7 linked regions of the Homo sapiens genome follow. The protein of the gene in region 2 interacts with the protein of the main gene of each other region in a biochemical or structural test. Each region holds a gene or a part of one and is shown on either strand. Other genes may lie near its edges. The genes, in order: LRRK2, MAPT, CASP3, AKT1, PPP5C, EP300 and TUBB3.

What was found.
Region 1: of the proteins of MAPT (region 2) and LRRK2, one has a biochemical effect on the other in vitro, tested with the Homo sapiens proteins (3 studies listed by BioGRID and IntAct).
Region 3: of the proteins of MAPT (region 2) and CASP3, one has a biochemical effect on the other in vitro, tested with the Homo sapiens proteins (3 studies listed by BioGRID).
Region 4: of the proteins of MAPT (region 2) and AKT1, one has a biochemical effect on the other in vitro, tested with the Homo sapiens proteins (3 studies listed by BioGRID and IntAct).
Region 5: of the proteins of MAPT (region 2) and PPP5C, one has a biochemical effect on the other in vitro, tested with the Homo sapiens proteins (3 studies listed by BioGRID).
Region 6: of the proteins of MAPT (region 2) and EP300, one has a biochemical effect on the other in vitro, tested with the Homo sapiens proteins (3 studies listed by BioGRID).
Region 7: the proteins of MAPT (region 2) and TUBB3 form a complex in vitro, tested with the Homo sapiens proteins (3 studies listed by BioGRID, with this or other methods).

The regions. Positions count from the first base shown.
Region 1 is NC_000012.12:40,364,497-40,367,996, reverse strand, and holds part of LRRK2 (leucine-rich repeat serine/threonine-protein kinase 2), read right to left. Parts: intron 3,156-3,500; coding exon 2,947-3,155; coding exon of another isoform or gene 2,864-2,946; exon of another isoform or gene 992-2,863; coding exon 920-991; exon of another isoform or gene 354-919; coding exon 232-353; 3' UTR 1-231. UniProt on the Homo sapiens protein: Serine/threonine-protein kinase which phosphorylates a broad range of proteins involved in multiple processes such as neuronal plasticity, innate immunity, autophagy, and vesicle trafficking.
Region 2 is NC_000017.11:46,023,554-46,026,193, forward strand, and holds part of MAPT (microtubule-associated protein tau), read left to right. Parts: intron 1-402; coding exon 403-618; 3' UTR 619-1,563; coding exon of another isoform or gene 1,564-1,635; 3' UTR 1,636-2,640. UniProt on the Homo sapiens protein: Promotes microtubule assembly and stability, and might be involved in the establishment and maintenance of neuronal polarity.
Region 3 is NC_000004.12:184,642,948-184,646,447, forward strand, and holds part of CASP3 (caspase-3 isoform a preproprotein), read right to left. Parts: intron 1,776-3,500; exon of another isoform or gene 1,596-1,775; coding exon of another isoform or gene 1,584-1,595; intron 1-1,583. UniProt on the Homo sapiens protein: Thiol protease that acts as a major effector caspase involved in the execution phase of apoptosis. Following cleavage and activation by initiator caspases (CASP8, CASP9 and/or CASP10), mediates execution of apoptosis by catalyzing cleavage of many proteins.
Region 4 is NC_000014.9:104,785,749-104,789,248, forward strand, and holds part of AKT1 (RAC-alpha serine/threonine-protein kinase), read right to left. Parts: intron 1-3,500. UniProt on the Homo sapiens protein: AKT1 is one of 3 closely related serine/threonine-protein kinases (AKT1, AKT2 and AKT3) called the AKT kinase, and which regulate many processes including metabolism, proliferation, cell survival, growth and angiogenesis.
Region 5 is NC_000019.10:46,353,587-46,357,086, reverse strand, and holds part of PPP5C (serine/threonine-protein phosphatase 5), read right to left. Parts: intron 3,340-3,500; coding exon 3,098-3,339; intron 1-3,097. UniProt on the Homo sapiens protein: Serine/threonine-protein phosphatase that dephosphorylates a myriad of proteins involved in different signaling pathways including the kinases CSNK1E, ASK1/MAP3K5, PRKDC and RAF1, the nuclear receptors NR3C1, PPARG, ESR1 and ESR2, SMAD proteins and TAU/MAPT.
Region 6 is NC_000022.11:41,144,592-41,148,091, reverse strand, and holds part of EP300 (histone acetyltransferase p300), read right to left. Parts: intron 1,354-3,500; coding exon 1,276-1,353; intron 256-1,275; coding exon 146-255; intron 1-145. UniProt on the Homo sapiens protein: Functions as a histone acetyltransferase and regulates transcription via chromatin remodeling. Acetylates all four core histones in nucleosomes. Histone acetylation gives an epigenetic tag for transcriptional activation.
Region 7 is NC_000016.10:89,926,342-89,929,841, reverse strand, and holds part of TUBB3 (tubulin beta-3 chain), read right to left. Parts: intron 1-3,500. UniProt on the Homo sapiens protein: Tubulin is the major constituent of microtubules, protein filaments consisting of alpha- and beta-tubulin heterodimers. Microtubules grow by the addition of GTP-tubulin dimers to the microtubule end, where a stabilizing cap forms.

The sequences.
Region 1 (3,500 bases), on a different chromosome or scaffold from region 2:
AGTAACTGGTATTTATAAGAAATATAACATTGTGTTTTAAATAGTTCTTTAAAATACACATTTACTGGTAAGTATTTTTACATATATTTAAATTAAAAATAATAACATTCCTTCATACACACGAGCTATTTCAAAAAATGTGAGTACCCTTTCCATGTGAACATTTTTAAAATAAATATTTACAAGAGGAGAGAATAATTTTCCTATCCAAAGACAATTCCTATTTCTCTCTTACTCAACAGATGTTCGTCTCATTTTTTCAGCTAATTCTTTTCTCACTTCAATGTGTTTTTCTAAATTTTGCACTTCATGTGGAAGATTGATGTCCCAAACGGTCAAGCAAGATTGTATCTCTAGAAAAAGAAAAAAATGAAATCATGTTTCAAAGATCCATCATAAAACATTCTTATTTTATTTCAGTTTGGCTCATGTATTTTTAGTTGACTTAGATAAATGTAAATATAAACACAGCTATAACTAATGTACTAAATTATTATTTATAAAAAACTATACTTGGAAAAGTTTTATAATACATTATAGAAACTATTAAATTTCAAATAGAGTATCAACATTTAATAAATTAACATTTCATATTCTAAAAGAAATAAAAGCTTTTTCAAACACTGTTCAAAATTAGACATTATGTAGATATAGATAAGTTGTAAAAAATATTCACATTTCGTTTAAGGTTGAGCTAGTGATTGACACCTCTACTTCAGCTGAAAATATAAATATTTAACACTTCATATCACTTGTAATTTTGAAAATTTATGTCTAAGTTCTTTACACTATAAACTACCAATTAAAATTCCTGATTATACCATATGTAATATTTTCTACAAATTTATGAAACACATAATATGTTACCATCATTCACATCATTGCCCTGTTTGGAAAACAGTATCCTTCTAAATGTTACCTTTCTGCTTTTGTGTACCTTCAGTATTTTTCCGGTTGTAGCCCAATACCAGCATGACATTTTTAAGGCTTCCTTTACAAAAACAAAATATGTAAGTTTTCTGTTAAAACTATATATTAAACTGGCCTGAAAAAAAAGTAAAGTTGTTCATAGTTTAAGACACAAATACCTTGGAACTGAATTCACAATTCTATTTTCTAGGTGACCCTTCAATTATATTGAATAAAGACCAGCATTTTTTTAAAAAATAACAAAATCTGTGATCCACTCCTTGCTGCAATTCTTAATTATGTGAGTCTGAGAAAACAGCTTAACCTTTCTATAAAATAGGCTCAGTATTTATACATTACCCTTCCCAAAGTTACAATGTTAAACGAGGTAATGTGTGTGAAAAGTTCTTTGGATATGGTAAGGTACAAATATGAGTATTTAGTACAAATATGAGTATTTAGATGGACACTTAGATGGATGGATATACTGATACTATGTCAAAATATCATATTTTCTTTTCAAATCATTCACTAATTTATTCAACAAATTTGCATCAAAAGTCTTCTATGTAGGCCCTAGGCTAGATCCTGGGAAAAAAGGGGTAAACAAAAACACACTAACCCAACCGTCTTGGAGTTTATATTCTAGTGAAGAGACTAGCATTAATGAAAAAAAAATATGACCATGATCAAAACTATGCAAGAAAGCTGTTATGGGAACCCAAAGCGGGAACTTTGACCTAATCAGTGTTGGCTTCTCAGAGGTTTTGACACAGGAGCTAACATTTCAAAGCATATGAGTTAAATAAGCATGAAAAAAAGCTATGTTAACTAAGCAAAGAAATAAACAGCATGTGCAAATCCCTGAGGCAAAATATAGCATAGTAATTGAGAAGAACTGGATGTTCATCTAGACAAGCAAGATCTGGTAGGAATGTGGTAGATGATGGAGGCAGGAGAGGTACAGTGAAGCCAGCTCATGCAGCACCTTGTAGGCTATCCTCCAATTGATCTTTATTTTAAAATCAAACTATAACCCATAGACATTCCACTATAACTTCAGTTATAAGCAAGCTATTTGGGTCCCAAAGTACATACAATTCAACTAGAGAATGCAACAACTTTGGTAGAATAAGACTACTGAGACAACCTATTGAGAGACCTACTGCTCTGCTTGTGTGGACATGTATCTTAATAGTTTACAGTCATTAAGAGCATCTAATTGTAACTCCTGTGCAACTCTAAAGTCTATAAATGAAAAATAGGTGAAGGTGCTAGAAAAACACATGTTCCTCTTTCACATATACTTGCAATGAATATATTTTCTTCACCATGTTCAAAACATTCATTATTTGCTAAAGTTACATAAATTCTAGTTTTTTTCAGAATTAAACCCCATAGTGTCGTTTTTGTAAACTTTTGTATATATGCTATTATTGTTATTTTCTAAAACAAATTATTATCAAAGGAAGACGCAAATATATTTATGCAGAAAATATATTTTATGTGCTATCACAATTTTATCATATTTAAATATAAAAATAGAAGCAAAAAAAGACAAAGTTTGAGTAAAATATGATTTGTCAATATTTGTAGGTTGTGCAGTTCAGCATGTATTGCTGCAAGAAAAAAGATTTGTTATAGAATGAAAAACCAAATGAGATTCTTTAACAAGCTGGGAGGCTAGACTATGATTAAAACAAACATTTTCTTTATTTTCTTTGCTCAAAAAGTAAAATATATTCAATACCATGTATTTCCCATTTTTGCCTTAGGTAAAAAGGAAAAAAGCAAGTAAGACCCAAACTGAGTGTTCAGCTGCAGTAATCTGCTTCTCTTGTGGGACTGAGAGCATTTACTCCCTCCACTTCTGTAATGACCCTATTCACAATTTATACCAGTCTTATGTTTCACTGTGTGACCCTCCAAGACCATCCATATGACACTGGAAAGTTCAGAGAAAATGTAAACGTAAAATAAAGGCATATTTTATAAGACTTAGAGAATATGAAAAATATCTAAAGGAAAGAAACTTGCCTAGCTGTGCTGTCATCATGACTCTGACCGAATTACAAAAGTTGTAAATTACACGTATAAGTCGACGAGTTGAAAGATCCAGGAGTAAAATATGGCCTCCTCCAGTTCCTATCCAAAGAGCAGTGTTCTTCTGAAGGCAGAGGGTTTTCACTCTCCCAGAATAAGACATTTTGTGTTTTGATTCCTTGTTTTCTTTTACCATTACCTCCCTAGAACCATAAAGTATACATTAATAATTTTACCACCAATTAAGAGATAAATGCTATTTACATATGATAACATAAACAACATTTTAAATTATTAAAACATGACACCACCACCATTATGCATCATTAAAATTATACAAAGCAAATTTTGCTAAATACAGATGCCAAAGAGCCACACTTCTTTACTTGAAGCATAAATTATCAAAGATAACAATAGCCCTTCATTTTCAGGAAATTATGAATAAGAGGGATACAATTTTTATAAATACCAAAGCTATCTAATTCAGTAAAAATAGCATACATGTGCCCAGGATAAAGAAAAAAAAAAGTTAGAGTCAAAAGTTTTAC
Region 2 (2,640 bases):
TCCTGGCCAGGCGCAGTGGCTCACGCCTGTAATGGCAGCACTCTGAGAGGCTGAGGCGGGCAGATTGCTTGCGTCCAGGAGTTCAAGACCAGCCTGGGCAACATAGCAAAACCCCGTTTCTATTAAAAATACAAAAAATTAGCCAGGTGTGGTGGCATGCACCTGTAATCCCAGCTACTCGGGAGGCTGAGGTGGGAGAATCACCTGAGCCTGGGAGGTCAAGGCTGCAGTGAGGTGAGATTGTGCCACCGCACTCTAGCCTGGGCGATAGAGCAAGACCCTGTCTCAAAAACAAACAAAAAACAGTCCCTGGCACTCTGGGCCAGGCCTGGCAGGGCAGTTGGCAGGGCTGGTCTTTCTCTGGCACTTCATCTCACCCTCCCTCCCTTCCTCTTCTTGCAGATTGAAACCCACAAGCTGACCTTCCGCGAGAACGCCAAAGCCAAGACAGACCACGGGGCGGAGATCGTGTACAAGTCGCCAGTGGTGTCTGGGGACACGTCTCCACGGCATCTCAGCAATGTCTCCTCCACCGGCAGCATCGACATGGTAGACTCGCCCCAGCTCGCCACGCTAGCTGACGAGGTGTCTGCCTCCCTGGCCAAGCAGGGTTTGTGATCAGGCCCCTGGGGCGGTCAATAATTGTGGAGAGGAGAGAATGAGAGAGTGTGGAAAAAAAAAGAATAATGACCCGGCCCCCGCCCTCTGCCCCCAGCTGCTCCTCGCAGTTCGGTTAATTGGTTAATCACTTAACCTGCTTTTGTCACTCGGCTTTGGCTCGGGACTTCAAAATCAGTGATGGGAGTAAGAGCAAATTTCATCTTTCCAAATTGATGGGTGGGCTAGTAATAAAATATTTAAAAAAAAACATTCAAAAACATGGCCACATCCAACATTTCCTCAGGCAATTCCTTTTGATTCTTTTTTCTTCCCCCTCCATGTAGAAGAGGGAGAAGGAGAGGCTCTGAAAGCTGCTTCTGGGGGATTTCAAGGGACTGGGGGTGCCAACCACCTCTGGCCCTGTTGTGGGGGTGTCACAGAGGCAGTGGCAGCAACAAAGGATTTGAAACTTGGTGTGTTCGTGGAGCCACAGGCAGACGATGTCAACCTTGTGTGAGTGTGACGGGGGTTGGGGTGGGGCGGGAGGCCACGGGGGAGGCCGAGGCAGGGGCTGGGCAGAGGGGAGAGGAAGCACAAGAAGTGGGAGTGGGAGAGGAAGCCACGTGCTGGAGAGTAGACATCCCCCTCCTTGCCGCTGGGAGAGCCAAGGCCTATGCCACCTGCAGCGTCTGAGCGGCCGCCTGTCCTTGGTGGCCGGGGGTGGGGGCCTGCTGTGGGTCAGTGTGCCACCCTCTGCAGGGCAGCCTGTGGGAGAAGGGACAGCGGGTAAAAAGAGAAGGCAAGCTGGCAGGAGGGTGGCACTTCGTGGATGACCTCCTTAGAAAAGACTGACCTTGATGTCTTGAGAGCGCTGGCCTCTTCCTCCCTCCCTGCAGGGTAGGGGGCCTGAGTTGAGGGGCTTCCCTCTGCTCCACAGAAACCCTGTTTTATTGAGTTCTGAAGGTTGGAACTGCTGCCATGATTTTGGCCACTTTGCAGACCTGGGACTTTAGGGCTAACCAGTTCTCTTTGTAAGGACTTGTGCCTCTTGGGAGACGTCCACCCGTTTCCAAGCCTGGGCCACTGGCATCTCTGGAGTGTGTGGGGGTCTGGGAGGCAGGTCCCGAGCCCCCTGTCCTTCCCACGGCCACTGCAGTCACCCCGTCTGCGCCGCTGTGCTGTTGTCTGCCGTGAGAGCCCAATCACTGCCTATACCCCTCATCACACGTCACAATGTCCCGAATTCCCAGCCTCACCACCCCTTCTCAGTAATGACCCTGGTTGGTTGCAGGAGGTACCTACTCCATACTGAGGGTGAAATTAAGGGAAGGCAAAGTCCAGGCACAAGAGTGGGACCCCAGCCTCTCACTCTCAGTTCCACTCATCCAACTGGGACCCTCACCACGAATCTCATGATCTGATTCGGTTCCCTGTCTCCTCCTCCCGTCACAGATGTGAGCCAGGGCACTGCTCAGCTGTGACCCTAGGTGTTTCTGCCTTGTTGACATGGAGAGAGCCCTTTCCCCTGAGAAGGCCTGGCCCCTTCCTGTGCTGAGCCCACAGCAGCAGGCTGGGTGTCTTGGTTGTCAGTGGTGGCACCAGGATGGAAGGGCAAGGCACCCAGGGCAGGCCCACAGTCCCGCTGTCCCCCACTTGCACCCTAGCTTGTAGCTGCCAACCTCCCAGACAGCCCAGCCCGCTGCTCAGCTCCACATGCATAGTATCAGCCCTCCACACCCGACAAAGGGGAACACACCCCCTTGGAAATGGTTCTTTTCCCCCAGTCCCAGCTGGAAGCCATGCTGTCTGTTCTGCTGGAGCAGCTGAACATATACATAGATGTTGCCCTGCCCTCCCCATCTGCACCCTGTTGAGTTGTAGTTGGATTTGTCTGTTTATGCTTGGATTCACCAGAGTGACTATGATAGTGAAAAGAAAAAAAAAAAAAAAAAAGGACGCATGTATCTTGAAATGCTTGTAAAGAGGTTTCTAACCCACCCTCACGAGGTGTCTCTCACCCCCACACTGGGACTCGTGTGG
Region 3 (3,500 bases), on a different chromosome or scaffold from region 2:
CCTTGTGACTGGTAATGGAAACTTTAAATAGTGACCAGCTTTTCAGAGTACTGTAATATACAAATACTATACAAATACTATAGTGGACTTCATTAACTTCATTATTAGTATCTGAACAACATACATTGCCTCAGTTATCAGTTTATTTTGATATACTTCTAAAAATTTATATGATGGTAGATGAAATCCTTACAGCATCAGACATGCGCACATTTGCTCTCTACTTGTCATCATCCGCTTTTTCCACATGAAAGCACCAAATCCACACTCCTGGGAGCAGAGCTTTGGTTCCCGCAAAACTCACTGAAGTGCTGCTTAGCATGACATCACCTCCATTAGCTAGTGCCCAGCAGGGTACAAATTATTCTGAGGATGGTGATCTCATCTTAGAAGGATAAAAAAATCACATCCTAAGGGAAATAGTCACTGCCTTAAATGAAAACAGAAATTTTGCCTGTAATCCCAGCACTTTGGGAGGCCGAGGCGGGCGGATCACAAGTTCGGGAGATCAAGACCATCCTGGCTAACACGGTGAAACCCCGTCTCTACTAAAAATATAAAAAATTAGCCAGGCGTGGTGGTGGGTGCCTGTAGTCCCAGCTACTCAGGAGGCTGAGGCAGGAGAATGGCGTGAACCCGGGAGGTGGAGCTTGCCGTGAGCCGAGATCGCGCCACTGCACTCCAGCCTGGGCGACAGAGTGAGACTCCGTCTCAAAAAAAAAAAAAAAAAAAAAAGAAAACAGAAATTTTGGTTTTTAGAACATTCTTATTTGACAAAATATAAATAGGAAAAATAATTGTGATTTAAAAGATTTATCCTGGCATAGCAATGGACTTAACATGAATTGTTTCTTACTGGGCTGATGTGTGTGTAATTCTGTTCAATTCAGGATGCTGCTGCTAAGAAAGGAAATTTCTGAACACATATGTTTATGGCAAAGTTCTCAGTAGACCAACTGATATTACTTAGAAACCTGGAACTCAGGTCTCAGAATCACTTGTCTAGTTCCTGGATCCCTTAACACTTGCCACCAACGCTGTAACAGTCAGGTCTTCAAACACAAAAAAATATTGTCAGTATAAATTTACTTCACTCTAAAATAGATACTTAGACATTTCAAGCTGTGTTTTCCTACACAAGTAAAAAACTAGAATGTTCTCCCTATTTACATGGTGGTTAGCCAACTACTCATTACAATACTGAAGTAAAGCAGACTACAACATCTATAGCATTAAGGCAGAGAAATAAAAATTAATTTCTAAAGTGAAATTTCTATATTAAGCTATAAAGTATTAACAATTTGAAACAACCTGTTATTAAAGAGTGAATGTGTGAAAGTGTGCCTGTGGTGGGGAATTCAAAAGGAGATGTTAAATTAGGATTGCCAGTCTCTAAAACTGAAAGAAAAAATACATTATTTTACAATAGGATTTAAAATATTTGATAAAGATTTCTCAGGGACAAATACTATAGTGGACTTCATTAACTTCATTATTAGTATCTGAACAACATATATTTTCTCAGTTATCAGTTTATTTTGATATACTTTAAAAATTTATATGATGGTAAAGGAAATCCTTACAGCATCAGACATGCGCACATTTGCTCTCTACTTGTCATCATCCGCTTTTTCCACATGAAAGCACCAAATCCACACTCCTGGGAGCAGAGCTTTGGTTCCCGCAAAACTCACTGAAGTGCTGCTTAGCATGACATCACCTCCATTAGCTAGTGCCCAGCGGGGTACAAATTATTCTGAGGATGGTGATCTCATCTTAGAAAGATAAAAAATCATATCCTAAAGGAAACAGTCACTGCCTTAAATGAAAACATTTATGTGCCAGTCTCTAAAACTGGCAATCCTAATTTAAATTTTAAATCTCTAAAATTCTTAATCAGCTCATTAGGCTGTTGCTGGTTCCTGTCCTACAGGGAAACTCTGAGGTAAGAAATAAAATCTGGTCTCTGCCCTAAGGGTTTTTAAATCTCAAAGTGAGACCTAAAAAACAACTGTTAGTTTCTGAATCATGTCCATGAATGTAAATGCTTTTAAGAAACATTTACTAGTAAAGATTTACCAAAACAGTAGCCAAAGGATGTGGCGTGAGAGCTGTGTGCAAAGCGCTGCGTGATGACTGTCCCTCTTAATGCTGGCTCATACAGGCTAGGTACTGAACTCAAAGTACAAGCGTATTTTCGTGAGTCCTCCCAATGACACTCTGAGGCATAAGGATCCCCACTGCAGAGTTCAGGTGACTGAGGCTAAGAGAAGTTAATGAACTTTAAAGTCGCACAGCCAAGATTCAAACTAGGATCTTCCCAACTCAAGAGGGCAGACTCCCACTATTCTGTAGACAGCTTAGTACTATATAGGAATGATAACACTTAACTTCAGGGAAGGAAACAAAAATCCATAATCTCAGAAGCTTTAAATAAGACAAAGAAAATAAATAACATGATAGAAAGTTACTGCAGAGATAACAAAATAACATAATGCACTGAATTCTAATGAATGAAAAAATGGCAAAAATGACTATGGCATTTCTGATGCGACTAGGTAGTTTACTTTTGTGTTTTCTTTCCTTTTTTAAAAAAATTTAACAAACTTCGCATGTGGCATTCAATTTACTTCTAAAGTGAAATAGGCCAGACACAGTGGCTCGCGCCTGTAATCCCAGCACTTTGGGAGGCCAAGGTGGGAGGAATGGTTGAGATCATGTGTTCAAGACCAGTCTGGGCAACACAGAGAGACCCCATCTCTATAACAAAGTAAAAACAAGTAGCCTGGCATGGTGGCACACACCTGTAGTCCCAGCTACTCAGGAGGCTGAGGCAAGAGGATTACTTGAGCATAGGAATTGGAGGCTGCAGTGAGCTATGATCGCACCACTGCACTTGAGCTTGGGTGACACAGCAAGGCTGTTTCTAAAAATAATAATAATAAAAGTAAAATAACTGGTTTCATGTTCAGCGTTAGGTATATGTCATTAAAACATATTCCCTGTATCTCTGTGTTCCTCCAAAGGAAAAGTGAAGCCTGTCCAGCAGGACTTCTGGGGAGATTACACTTCTGTCAAACAACTTGAAAAATATCAGGATTATATTTATTACCTGTCAGAGAGGACAAAGTCTCAAAAGCAGTCACGTTTCCAGATTTAGCAAATGAAACAGAAAGAACATCTGTTTCACAATAGTTTGGACAAGAAAAGACTTCAGTTGTGATGTACCAGAGGTTTTATCAAAATCTTTTCCCATCTGGTCTCTGAATTCATTTGAGTACGTATAAGAATTATCAAACTGGCGATTGTAACTGGGCCTGGTGAAGTCAATCTTTTAATATTTGTTATGTAATTAAGGTAAAAATATGAGAACAGGAATGTAAAATCAAATACAGAATACATTGAAATAAGTTCCATTGTACTATACAAACAAACCATCCTTTCCTTTCCTCTGGCAAGGGCCACGTGACCAGGAAGACAGTACAGAGCACTCTCCACTA
Region 4 (3,500 bases), on a different chromosome or scaffold from region 2:
TGGAGCAGGCCTCAGCCCGACACACACACCCCGGGAGGAACATGGTGCGGGCAGGCGGCACCACCATGACCCCGTCCACCTCGCTGAGGCACAGCCGGAGGCGCTGGGGCCTCTCTTCCTGCCACTCCAGGGAAGCACCTGGGTCTCAGCTTTCCATTCTCCTGGGGCTCTACTGGGTGGGGTACTGGGCCTCCCTGGTGCTGCCCCTGACAGACCACCTGGGCCTGGATGTCCTCCCCCACAGGCACTGCCCGTCACCCACCCCTCGGGCCGGCAAAGGCACCCCACCTGCCACACACCCATCCATCGCAGAGCCCAGCACATCCCAAGACCCTGTCCCTGTCCCTGTCCCCCACCTCATTTTTGGTCTGCCCCAAACAAGCCCCACCCATGTCATGGCCCACCCTGCCTACTCAGGACCCCTGCAGATGAGGCTGCAGCCCCTCCCTGGCGCCTCCTACTCTGCCCCCGCCCACTCTCCCCATAACTTGCAGCAGGCTTTGCCAAGTGCCCTCCACCCAGTGGGTTCCCAGGGCCCTCACCCTCGCTCCCTGCGTGGGAGGAAGCTGGGCATGGGGACAGCACACAGTGCCTGCTGCGAGGGAGGGCTGGCCACAGTGTCCCACGTGTAGACACTGCCCTCGGGAAAGGAAGTGGGCACGGGCACAGGCTCCTTCCGGGGCTCGGCCGGGGGCACGCAGCCATGCCCACAGCCCCTCCCTCCTCCCGTCTCTCTTGGGCAGGGCCCCTGGCGGTTGAAGGGCTCCAGTGCTGGCCTCTCAATCCCTGACACCCCAGGAAAAGTGCCCTGCATTGCTGGGGGAACTGGAACCAGGCAGTAGGGACCTCGTCCTCCACACCGACCATGGGAAGCACCCGCCACAGAGGGGCCTTCCATCTCCCCACCATCTTGTTTCTGCCCCAACTTGGAGCCACGCCTGGGGCAGGAGGGCCCCCAGAGCACGGCCAGCTGTGGAGGGTGCTCCTTCTGATCCCCCGGCCTGCTGGGACATTGTGGCCCTGACCCCCGTGGCCTCACCCCACACCTCACCAAGCTTGTGCAGCTCAGCGTCTCCGCGCCCTACACCTGGCTGCTGTGCCCCTGGCCCCAGTCTGTGGGGAGGCCAGCCAGACCCTGGCCAGCCGAAGGGCCTCTCTGCATTCTCCAGGCCCAGGGAGCAGCCACCTCCCCGCCAGGCCTGCCCAGGGGGTGTCTCCACCCCTGAGCTGGACAACCAGCTGAGGGCCTGGGCAGGTGGGCCCGCCAGGTTACAGGGTATGGGTGGGGTCTGCAGTCACCGGGCCCGCCTGGGGGGTGTGTGAGCCCAAACACAGCGCCCCAAGGATCCCACCCCAAAGCCCGCAACATTGGCAGCAGAGTCACCCATGAACTCCCAACCCCCTCAATTCCAACGTTTCTGAAATCCAAACCTATCATTCCTTAAGGTTCAAGGAAAACACACCTAAAGGCGGCATGGCAGGGAAGGGAACTCCCGTTGGAGATGAGGAAGTAAGGGGCCTAGGGTTCGCCTAACAGCCCCATCCTGGCCTGGAGCCCCAGGGCCCTCTGCCAACCTGCCCGGGGCCCCAGCGCTGGGCTGGGGGAACCTTCTCCTGAGGCCATGGGACTAGGCACAATGGTCCAAGCAGACAGAAGCAGCAGGCAGCTGCCCACCCAGGGTGGCCTGGGGAGCAGGCCCAGAGCCACAGCCACAGCCACCAGTCTCAGCTATGGGAGGGCCCGAGGGCAGGGTGCTGGCCCCAAGCCGGGCCGGGTGTGCCCAGGCAGAGGGGACGCCAGCGGGGGCCGCGCCAGTTCCCTCCGCTCAGCCTCGTGCAGGACTTCTAGGAACCCGGCCTGATGCAACCCGGCCAGGCTTCTCCTGAGAGTGGAAGGTGTACGGGGGTCTAGGCCCCAGCACAGGAATCATTCCACCCACATTCTGTCCACTCTCCTGGGCCTCAGTTTCCCTTCCCGGAGTCCAGCCCCCCACAGGGCATCCCTGCCCAGAGAGGGCCAGTGACCAAGAAACACACAGGAAGAAGAGCTGTCCACTCAGGAGCCACCAGGCGTGGGGGCTAAGGTCCAGGGCTGGGGCCAGCAGTGACCCCTCACCCCCACTCAAGGCCACCTCGGCTTCCTCTTTTGTTGTTTTTGAAGTGAGAACTCAACAAGCTCCCAAAACAGGAACCTCCCTGATGCTGGCGGCCTCCACCACAGCCATGCCATGACCTCCACCAGCCTGTGCCTCCTGCCCCTCTCCCGGGTAGGCCCAGGGCTGTTGGGACCCCCACTCTCTGCCCAGCCCTCCCACCAGGAGCCAGCACACTTGCCTCCCCATCTCTGTCCCTGGCCTGCCCACGGGGGCCGTTCCAGACCCTCAACGCTCCCCCAGGGGAGGCAGAGCTTGGCACTAACCAGCCCAGGGCCCGCGGGTCTCACACTGAAGCCACCTAGACGCAGCCTGGGGTTGACCCTCACCTGACAGCCTGGGAAAAACTGAGGCCCAGGAGGCACAGGCAGCCCTGGCCTGGAGCCCAAAGGTTCCCACAGGCTGAGGGGAGAGTCTGCGGGCTCCCTCCCTCAGGGTCCTGCTGGGCCCCTCATCCTGGCGGGGTAATGAGCAGCCTCCATCTGCACACAAACAATTAGCCCTGCGGGGCCCTCCGCAGCAGCTGCTCTCTGGAGTGGGCTCAGAGTCCCCCACAGACCTCTTCTCAAGGGTGTTTACTCAGCAAAGCCAAGGCCTCCTCCAGGATGAAGGGGAGTGGCCTGTACCCTCTGAGGTCCCCCACCTCACGCAGGGACCCCAGGACCAGCTGGATGGCTGAGCAGCAGCTGGGGATGCAGTGAGGTTCTATGTCGCTCACCAAAGCGAAGTAACACACTGGGGTAGGAACCACTCTCTCCCTGCCTCAGTGCCCCCCCGCAGGGACAGCCAGTGCCAGGACTTCAAGGCGGGGAGAGGGGGTGGGAAGGAGGCCCAGCCTAGGCACCTGCTTGGGGTCAGAGACCAGCCTCCATACTCCCCACCGGGACGCCTGGGGCTAACTCAGCAGGAGTGGTGAGGGGGCTGCCCTGAGGCCTGGACTGGGGGGTCTATGCCAGGCATGGGCCCGGGGTAGGGCATGGCAAGGACTCAGATGTCCGGAGACTGGACCCTCCGTGAGCCGCATGGACACACGGTCCCGTGTCACCCGGGCCCGGCCAGGCACCCAGATCCGTGGCTTGGACACGCTGCCCACACACTCAGGAGCGTCTGCCGCGTAACCCACGCGCCCCAGGCAGCTTCCCTCGACCCCCGCCCACTCGGCCTTGGCCTGCTGGGTCACAGCCTGCCGAAGGCAGCCAGGCCTGCAGCTCTTCCCCGGCCCCTCTCGGACAGCGACCAGCCTGAGGGAGTCCAGGTGGTGCCCCTGCGGCCGGCACCCACTCCTGGCCTAGGCCCAGCCCTTTCTCGAGAGCCCAGAGCACCTCATCCTGGGTCCCAGCATCCCGG
Region 5 (3,500 bases), on a different chromosome or scaffold from region 2:
TGACAGAGCAAGACTCTCTCTCAAACAAAAAACAAAAAACAAAAACAAAGAAAAAACACTTTGGTTGTTATTCCTATATTCTCACCTCCTTTAACAGATGAGGACACTAAGGCTGAGAAAAAAGGCACTAGGAGCCATGCAGCTGCTACCCAATCTGAGCTGGCTGTGAACCTAGGCGTCCTGAGCCCAGAGCCTGCCCCATCTAGCCCCTGCACTGGTGACCGCAGACTCTCTGCCTGCAGCCCACATGTAAAATAGGGATTTTTATATCACATCCATCACTCATCTGTACTTGTGTAAATGAAAAGTCATTTCCACAAAACAATATTTATACACACTTCCTCCAAACAATGAACCGTTTTTAATTCTCTGTTTGATGAAGACAAAAGTGCTGAAGCTATTCAACTGATTGTGGCCCAGAAACAGTTACAAGCATGGACTAGGGGTTCAAGTCTCAGCTCTGCCACTTCCCTGCTGGGTGACCTTGGAGGAGGGACATCTCCTCTCTAGGCCTCAGTCTGAATTCAGGCTGAATTCAGGTGCACAAAGGGCTCCCAGCAGTGCTGGGCCCAGAGTGAGCAGACCGCTGAGGAAACCGAGGCTAAGGGGAGCTCCCCCGCCCAAGGCCAAGGTCACGTCTTTGCTCTGCTTCCCTGGCGAGCTTCTGGTCTAGGAGGAAACTCTAGCATCCAGCAAGCAGGAGGTAGAGTCTTGGGAAGATGAACTGCCCCAGGGCACATGGAGCCTGAAGAACTGCGCAGAAAGGAGCAAGGCTGAAGGCCTGCAGGCATATGGATGGCCTGATGACAGGTAAGCCCTCATGTTCATGTGGGGGTCCCCAATGCTGCTGGGAGAGCCCCCATGGGGAAATGGGCCATGACAATTTAGGTGCTGGGTATTCTGTAAAAGACTCTGAATTCCCCACCCCCTCAACCCTCCCTGCCATCCGCCAGGCCTGGGACACAGCTCAGACGTGGCACACCCACAAGATGGCTGAAGCCAACCAGCCCAGCCTCAGGGAGTATGCGGGGTTGGGAGTATGCGGGGTTGGGCCCTAGACTGGGCCAGAGTCTTGAAAAGCCTGCTCCTTACCCTGGGGAAAGACACTCTTGCAGCCCCACACTTGACGAAGACCCTGCCTGCAGCCCCTGCTCCTTACCCTGGGGAAAGATGCTCCTGCAGCCCCACACGAGATGAAGACCCTGCCCTAAACCTGTCCTTGGGGCTCCTCTCTTCTGCCCCACTGTCTCCCCAGGCCCCCTTCCCACCTGGAGCCCTGCCCCAACCCAACACCGACTGTCCTTGGTTACTCATTACTGAGCCCTGCAGCTCGTGACCTTTACTCAACCATGTCATCACAGCCACAGCCATCCGGAGGCGGCCACTCCTCTTGTCACCATTTTCTAGATTAGGACAGGAAGAGACAATGAGGGAGGGGCTTGGCCAAGAATGGCTTGGGAGCCCAAGCTGGGAAGGCCTCTGCTCTGCTGCCCCTGCCCCCACCCTTCTAGGTGTCGCCCTAACCCCCCGCCACATCTCTGCCCCCATCCTAACATGTGTCCCCTGGACTCATGCTTAGCTCAAGCCTTCACCTGGCCTGAAGTCCACCCTCCACCCCAGGCCAGCGGCCAACAGCCAGGACAGTGTCTGAGCTGGCTCCACCGACTGCAGACTCGTGCTTCTCAGCCCCGCGACCAACTGCAGACTCGCGGCTCCCAGCTCCCTGGTTGCCCCTCCCTACACGACACAAGCAGCTCCGAGTGTGATGGTTGCAAGGGAAGGAGGGAGTGAAGTGTGTCTGTGTCGGGGGGCAGGATAACAATCCTCTCGACACACACTGACCAAGCCCCCTGCTGCACCATCCCCATGCGCAGGACAAGCGCACGGCCCCGTCTCAGGGAGCGAACTCTGAGGTGGGAGAGATAAGGCCCTGAGGCCAGGCCTCCTGGGTTCAAATCCCAGCTCTGCTACTAACCAGGTGGGGGTCACTGGGCAGGTGACTTCACCCCTTAGGGACTGTTTCCTCATCTGTGCAAGGGGAGTAATCCCAGTTCCCACGTCCCAGGGTGCTGTAATGATTCAGCCAGCCTCCCTGAAGGAAGATGCAGAGCACACCTGGTGTGAAGGTGTGTGCTCGCTCTGCAGAGCCTCATACCGTCAGGATTTTCATTAGGTGGGTGAGGGCACTAGCGAATTCTCACTGTGCCCTAGGTCCCCTCCCTCATCAGCATATCACACATATCCTGTCTGCTGTCCCTGGCAGCATATCACCCTTCTTGTTTTTTTTTTTGAGACAGGGTCTCACTGTGTCGCCCAGGCTGGAGTGGAGTGGTGAGAGCATAGCTCACTGCGGCCTTGAGCTCCTGAGCTCAAGTAATCCTCTTGCCTCAGCCTCCTGAGTAGCTGGGACTAAAGGTGCGTGCCACCACGCTTGGCTAATTTTTGTATTTTTTGTAGAGATGAGGTCTCCTCCCTATGTGGCCCAGGCTTGTCTTAAACTCCTGGGCTCAAGCAATCCTCTCACCCTGGCCTCCCAAAGTGCTGGGATTACTGCCGTGAGCCACTGTGCCCGACTGCCCTTCCTCTTTTCTTCAAAGTGCAGATCCTCACCTGCAATTATTCTGCTAACCTATTCAGTGGTGGGTTTTCTGCCTGCCCCTGAAAGACAAGCTCCACCAGAAGAAGAGAGGCTGTGTGGCTCCTGTCCAGCACCAGCACTAACAATGACAGTAACCATCAGGTGAACCATCACAGGACACTGACCCCGGGCCAAGTACTGGTCTACTCGTGTGAAAGGCAAAAGCTCACTTTTCCTCACCGCTACCCTTGAGGCTGATCCTCTTGTTCTCCTCATTTCACGGATATGGAAAGGAAGGTGTGGCGAGGCGGGGTAACTGGCTCAGGGTCACAAAATGTGAGATGGCTGAGCAGAGCTGTGGCCTGGGTACTCTGGCCTGGGCCCAAGGCCCCACAGGCACTTGCTGGCTGGCTGAGTGGTAAGTAGAGGAGTGAATGGCTCCTCACACCCGTCCCCGCCAGCCCAGCCCTCAGTATCTGCCTGGCTCAGGTGCCAGGCCTGGCCCACTCCCCAGCTCACCGTCTCGTAGTCTCGCAGCGCGGCCCGGAACTTGCCCAGTGCCATGTTGCTGGCAGCCCGGCGGTAATAACCCTTGATGTACTTCTTGTCCAGCTCAATGGCCCGCGTGGCGTCTCCCAGCGCGTAGCCATAGCACTCAGTGCGCAGGTAGGCCAGGCTGCGGTTGCCATAGTAGATGGCATTGCTGGGGTTCAGCTCGATGGCCTGGCTGTAGAACTTGATGGCGTTCTCGTAGTCCTTGGCTGCGGAGACAGAAGAAGAGGCATGAGGCAGTGCTCCAACCCTGCGAGGACAGGCCCTGGGCTGGGTGACGCCCAGTCTCCCTGTTCACAGATGGGGAAGCTGAGGGCTACCCTGAGCCCAGAGACATCTCTTCAGCCTGCCCCTCCTGCCTGTCCCAACC
Region 6 (3,500 bases), on a different chromosome or scaffold from region 2:
AGTAGAGTTAAATACAGAAGAATTACAGAAGAACTAGGAGTTATGGTCTGTTTAAATGACTGTGAGAATTTATAAAGTAGGAACAAACAGGATTTTCAAAATACCAGGTAAAGGCCAAAGAGATTACCAAAGACGTCAAACTAACCGGGTTGAGAGCTCCAGGTTGAGCCAACTGTCCATGGTGCTGAAGAGGAGGGGTTTGCCGGGGTACAATAGGGGGCTGGGCCATGCTCATCTGGCCAAATTGATTCAAACCTGTGAATATGAGCAAAATGTTAGATCTGAATGCCTTTGTGAAATTGAATAATAAAAGATAGAATTCTTATGTCTGATTCTGTATCTTTTTTTTTTTTTGAGACGGAGTCTTGCTCTGTCGCCCAGGCTGGAGTGCAGTGGCGCAATCTCCGCTCACTGCAAGCTCTGCCACCTGGGTTCACACCATTCTCCTGCCTCAGCCTCCTGAGTAGCTGGGACTACAGGCGTCCGCCACCACACCCAGCTAATTTTTTGTATTTTTAGTAGAGACGGGGGTTTCACTGTGTTAGCCAGGATGGTCTCTATCTCCTGACCTTGTGATCTGCCCGCCTCAGCCTCCCAAAGTGCTGGGATTACAGGCGTGAGCCACCGCACCTGGCCCTGATTCTATCAGGACTAATAAACTGGCTTTCAACCTTCTAAGTATAAATAAATCTGTCTCATTCACAGTAGCAGTAAACAGACATTATCAACTAACAGGATCTCCAAACTGAATTTTACAAATTTTACAATCTGCTTTTTTTTTTTTTTTTGAGACGAAGTCTTGCTGTCACTCAGGCTGGGGTCCAGTGGCGCGATCTCGCCTCACTGCAAACTCCGCCTCCTGGGTTCAAGTGATTCTCCAGCCTCAGCCTCCAGAGTAAATGGGATTACAGGCCCGTGCCACTACAACCGGCTAATTTTTTTGTATTTTTAGTAGAGACAGGGTTTCACCACATTGGCCAGGCTGGTCTCGTACTTTGACCTCAGGTGGTACACCAGCCTCGGCCTCCCAAAGTGCTGGGATTACAAGCGTGAGCCACCATGCCCAGCCTGCAGTTGTTTTTTAATGGATACTTGATCATTTAATGTCACCTGCCCTGTGATCTGCCAGCCAACCTGCTCTTCACCCCCTCTTCCTCTATGGGCAGGTAATCATGACACTTGCTGTTGGCATAAAGCGGGTGTTCAGGTAGCAAGTATTATCTTGCAGTACACCGGGGATTCTTTTAAAATAAAAAAATTTTTTTCACTATTTACCAGATTGTGGAGTTATTCGAGGCATCATCTGGTTTGGCACACTGCCACGGATCATACTTGGGTCAGGTAGAGGGCCATCTAGAGTAAAAAAGAGAAATAAGTATCTTTGCACCATCTTCCCTTAACCAAACAAAAACTCACTGCACACACAAACCCCACAAAATATTTTTAATAATACCTTTGAAAATTGAGTATGAATCACAAAATAAAGCTCTGAACTAGACAGAAGCTTGAAGAAAATGTTATTTCTGGAATACAGAAAAATGCCTCCAAGTGGATTTGTTGGTATTCCTTTATGAGCCCGGGTGCTTTCAATGTTGATAGAAAAATAAGCTATTGAAGCCATTATAGGCCAGGCACAGTGGCTCACGCCTGTAATCCTGGCACTTTGGGAGGCTGAGGTGGGTGGATCACTTGAGGTCAGGAGTTCAAAACCAGCCTAGCCAACATGGCGAAACCCTGTCTCTACTAAAAATACAAAAAAATTAGCCAGGCGTGGTGGCAGGCACCTGTAATCCCAGCTACTCAGGAGGCTGAGGCAGGAGAATCGCATGAACCTGGAAGGCGGAGGTTGCAGTGAGCCAAGATCACACGACTGCACTCCAGCCTGGGCGATGGAGCAAGACTCTGTCTCAAAAAAAAAAAAAAAAATTGAGGCCATCATAGCATTTAATATGTTATTGTTTAACAAAGTCTGAGTCTGGTTGGCATGCAACAGAGTATCTCCATGGATAATAGCTATGAATCATGTCTAATGGTGGCCGAATTTGATCATGTAGCACAACGTTTTTATGCACATAAACTGTGAACATTGATTTTAAATAATATGCATATTATACCACACTACATATCATGTACCTCTTAAATACAAAAACAGAAATAATTCTTAAAAAAATAAAATATCCTGTAATCCCAGCACTTTGGGAGGCCGAGGCGGGCGGATCACGAGGTCAGGAGATCGAGACCATCCTAGATAGCACGGTGAAACCCGTCTCTACTAAAAATACAAAAAAATAGCCGGGCGTGGTGGCAGGCGCCTGTAGTCCCAGCTACTCGGGAGGCTGAGGCAGGAGAATGGCGTGAACCCGGGGCATGACCCCGGGAGGTGGAGCTTGCAGTAAGCTGAGATCGTGCCACTGCACTCCAGCCTGGGCGACAGAGCGAGACTCCGTCTCAAAAAAAACCTAAAATATAAATACATAAATTCTAAGGTCTTTTTCCTGGATTATCTGCACATGCTCTAGTGTAGTACTTTCAACATAGTGCACAGAGAAAATATTTTTACAGCACCCTCGGAAAGGACAGATGTCTGTAGTGACCTGGCTCCACCCTGGCCATACCCTCCATCAAGGGCTGTACATTCAAGCCTCAGGCATAGGAGAGGAAGACCTGCTGCTCTTCTAAGGAGATGTCCATCCCTTCAGACAAATTTCAACCTTTAGTAAATGAGCAAAACTGAGAGAGGAAATGCTCAACATTTATTCATATAAACTTTTATCTGTAACTCTGCAAGCTTTATAAGAAGTATATGCATAATCCATGCTCATTACATAAAAATTAAAAATCAATAGAAAAATGAATCAGGATCCAACAAATGACCTTGAGATAAACCTTTCCTCTTCCTCCCCACACATATCTGTATTCACGCACACTATCTACAAAACAATGTTTTCACCTAAGATATGAGTAACTTTTTTTTCAAGTCAACAATATGGATAGGTGTTCCAAGCTAAATGGCAAGTGCCAAGCAGCTAATACCAAGTAAAACTGTTTTAAGTACCCAAAACAATAGAGAATGGTGAGGACTGAAGTGGAGAGAAAACACAGCTCTTCTAGAGTCAGCCATGAGTGCAGCTATAGACAGGTGTCACTGTAGGAGAAAGGGGGTCAAGTCTGCCAGACATGTCCTTTTTTTTTTAAAGCAGCCAGAAATTCAGACTTTTTAAATGCAAAATCTTCTGATTTTTAAGTATTTGAGACTAATCAAATGAAAATGGTTTAAAAATAAAACCGCAATCCTACTGCCCACATTTGCCCCATATGATGCAGATACGAATGTATCTATTATTGCTCCATGAGGCAGCTCTTGTCATTTTAAGGAAACTTGATGAATTATTTAAAGGAACATCTTGATACTATTTTTTAAGATAAATATTTAAAGGCTGGGCGCAGTGGGTCACACCTGTAATTTCAGCATTTTGGGAGGCCGAGGTGGGTGGATATCT
Region 7 (3,500 bases), on a different chromosome or scaffold from region 2:
GTAATCCCAGCTGCTTGGGAGGCTGAGGCGGAGAATCACACGAACTCGGGAGGTGGAGGTTGCAGTGAGCTTATGTCATGCCACTGCACTCAAGCCTGGGCAACAGAAGGAAACACCGTCTCAAATAAAAGAAAGAAAGAAAACTGCTTGTGGGTGCTTCTCTATGCGTGGGTGCCTCTGGTAGATGTGTGGAAGGCTGTGCCTGGGGAGGGGCCCCAGACTGGGAGGAGCTTCTTCTCACGGGTGCCCTGTGGTCTTGTTGAGATTTTCTCACGTGCACACGGTAGCTTTTCAAAGAAAATTTGTTAAAAATAAATGTTTTTAAAACCTTAAGAATAAACATAGTGTAATTATTGTAACGCGGACAGCATGGACATGGACCACCTCTGCTAACAGTGTCTCGGGATGCCCGTTCACCCTGAGACTGTTATCAGAGGTGCCCGTTCACCCTGAGACTGTTATCAGAGGTCATCTCTCCACAAAGGTCAGGGGTGGATTTCTTTCCATCTTTTGTGCATTTTTGTTATTGCTAAGTTTTATTCTTTTTGCGTTAAATTTTTAAATTACAAAAATGATTCAGGCTGGGTGTGGTGGCTCATGCCTATAATCCCAGCACTTTGGGAGGCTGAGGCAGGCAGATCACTTGAAGTCAGGAGTTCAGGACCAACCTGGACAACAGGGCAAAACCCTGTCCCTACTAAAAATACAAAAATTAGCCGGGCGTGGTAGCGCGCACCTGTAATTTCAGTTGTTTCAGAGTCTGAGACACGAGAATCGCTTGAACCCAGGGGGCAGAGGTTGCAGTGAGCTGAGATCAAGCCACTGCACACCAGCCTGTGGGACAAGAGTGAAACCCTATCTTAAAAAAAAAAAAAAAAAAGGCCGGGCGCGGTGGCTCACGCCTGCAATCCCAGCACTTTGGGAGGCCAAGGCGGGTGGATCACGAGGTCAGTAGTTCGAGACCAGCCTGACCAACATGGTGAAACCCCATCTCTACTAAAAATACAAAAATTAGGCCAGACGCAGTGGCTCACGCCTGTCTGTGGTCCTAGCACTTTGGGAGGCCGAGGTGGGCGGATCATGAGGTCAGGAGATCGAGACCATCCTGGCTGGCACAGTGAAACCCTGTCTCTACTAAAAATACAAAAAATTAGCCAGGCGCGGTGGCGGGCACCTGTAGTCCCAGCTACTTGGGAGGCTGACTCAGGAGAATGGCGTGAACCTGGGAGGCGGAGCTTGCAGTGAACCGAGATTGTGCCACCGTGCTCCAGCCTGGGCAACAGATAGAGACTCCGCCTCAAAAAAAAAAAAAAAAAATTAGCCAGTGTGGTGACGGGTGCCTGTAATCCCAGCTACTCAGGAGGCTAAGGCAGGAGAATTGCTTGAACCCAGGAGGTGGAGGTTGCAGTGAGCCGAGATCACTCCACTGCACTCCAGCCTGAGTGACAGAGTGAGACTCCATCTCAAACAAACAAACAAAAAAATCAGCTGGCCATGGTGGCTCATATTTATAATCCCAGCAGTTTGGGAGGCCAAGAGAGGTGGATCACTTGAGTCCAGGAGTTCAAGACCAGCCTGGGCAACATGGTGAAACCCTGTCTCTACCAAAAAACAAAAAAATTAGTTGGGCATGGTGACGCATGCCTATAGCCCCAGCTACTCAGGAGGCTGAGGTGGGAGGATCACTTGAGCCAGGGGGGTGGAGGTTGCAGTGAGCCTAGATCATGCCAGTCCAGGCGACAGAGTAAGAGCCTGTCTCAAAAAAAAAATACAGAAAGGTCCCTGAGGCATTTGGGGCTTGTCCAAGCTTCCCACCTACTGCTTGCCTCCCTAACACTCTCTTTGAGGATCCCCCATTAATTTAGTTGCTGGCAGTCCACTTGAGTCGGGGACCTTGCTCCCCAAAGCACTGGGACACCCCAAATTTATGGTTCCAGGGAACCCACAACCACCAGCCCCTGTAAAGGAGGGGTGGAGAGAGTAACACATCTATGGGAAGTCCTCTGCAGAGCGAGGCACAGGGCAGCAGGAGCAATGGAGCAGAGTGGATTCAAGACCCAGCACGAGCACAGCTGTGGGCCAGGCGCGTGCCTCGCAGGACCTGTTTTCTCATCTGTGAGATGAACGTGTGAATGGTGCCCACATCCAGGCCTTAGCACAAAGCTTGACATGAAAACATTCAGCACATGTTGGCTTCATTTTGTTCAAATGTTTTAGATACTATTTAAAGTTTTAAAACCATATGCACAGGTCACTTAAAAAAAATGGACCAGAAGGATAGAAAAAGAAATTTGTTCCCACTTGGATAGAGAGAGGTGGCTAGATGGGCACCAGGTTTATCTGCAATATTTAAGGTTTTTTTTAACCAGGAGAATATATTAATTGCTTTTGTAGTTAAAATTAATAAAATTATAATTTGAGATAAAGTAATAAAATATATTGTTCCTTTTTTTTTTTTAGATAGGGTCTTGCTCTATTGCCCAGGCTAGAATGCAGGGGCATGACCTCAGCTCACTTTAACCTCTGCCCACCTCCCCCAGGTGATCCTCCCACCTCTGTCTCCCAAGTAGCTGGGACCACAGGCCGGCGTGCCTCCATGTCCAGCTAATTTTTTTTGTTTTTTATTTTTTGTAGGCACGGAGTCTTGCCATGTTGCCCAGGCTGGCCCTGAAGTGCTGACCTCAGGTGATCCACCCACCTCGGCCTCCCAAAGTGCTGGGATTACAGGTGTGAGCCACCGCACCTGGCCTATGTTACATATTTAATAAACAATAAAATATAATTTTATAAACTAAATTGTTAACATCACTACAGAAAAGGAAATCGGCCCGGCGTGGTGGCTCATGCCTGCAATCCCAGCACTTTGGGAGGCTGAGGCAGGTGAATCACCTGAGGTCAGGAGTTTGAGACCAGCCTGACCAAGATGGAGAAACCCCATCTCTAGTAAAAGTACAAAATAAGCCAGGTGTGGTGGCGGGCGCCTGTAATCCCAGCTACTCAGGAGGCTGAGGCAGGAGAATAGCTTGAACCCAGGAAGTGGAGGTTGCAATGAGCCGAGATCGCGCCACTGCACTCCAGCCTGGGCAACAAGAGCCAAACTCCATCTAAAAGAAAATAAGAAAAAAGGAAAATTGTGGCCAGGCGTGGTGGTGAGCGCCTGCGGTCCCAGCTACTCGGGAGGCCGAGGCTGCAGTGAGCCGAGATCGCGCCTCTGGACGCCAGCCCGGGCGACAGAGCCAGGCCTCCTCTCATAACCAAAAACAAAAACCTGGAAACACAAAGCAGAACCCGGCGTTCGAGGCCAGGCGCTCGGCCCGGGCGCTGTCCTTGGTGCTGACCTCGCGCAGCGCTTGGGGTCCTGGGGAAAGCGGGGCCGGGCTTTGAGGGCAGTGGCCAAGGCAGGTGGGAGCGGGGGTCCCCGATGAAGGGGCTGCGAGACTGGGGCCTCCAAGCCCCTCCAGGACCCGAATGCGGTTCCCGCCCGGCCCGCGGCTCCGCAG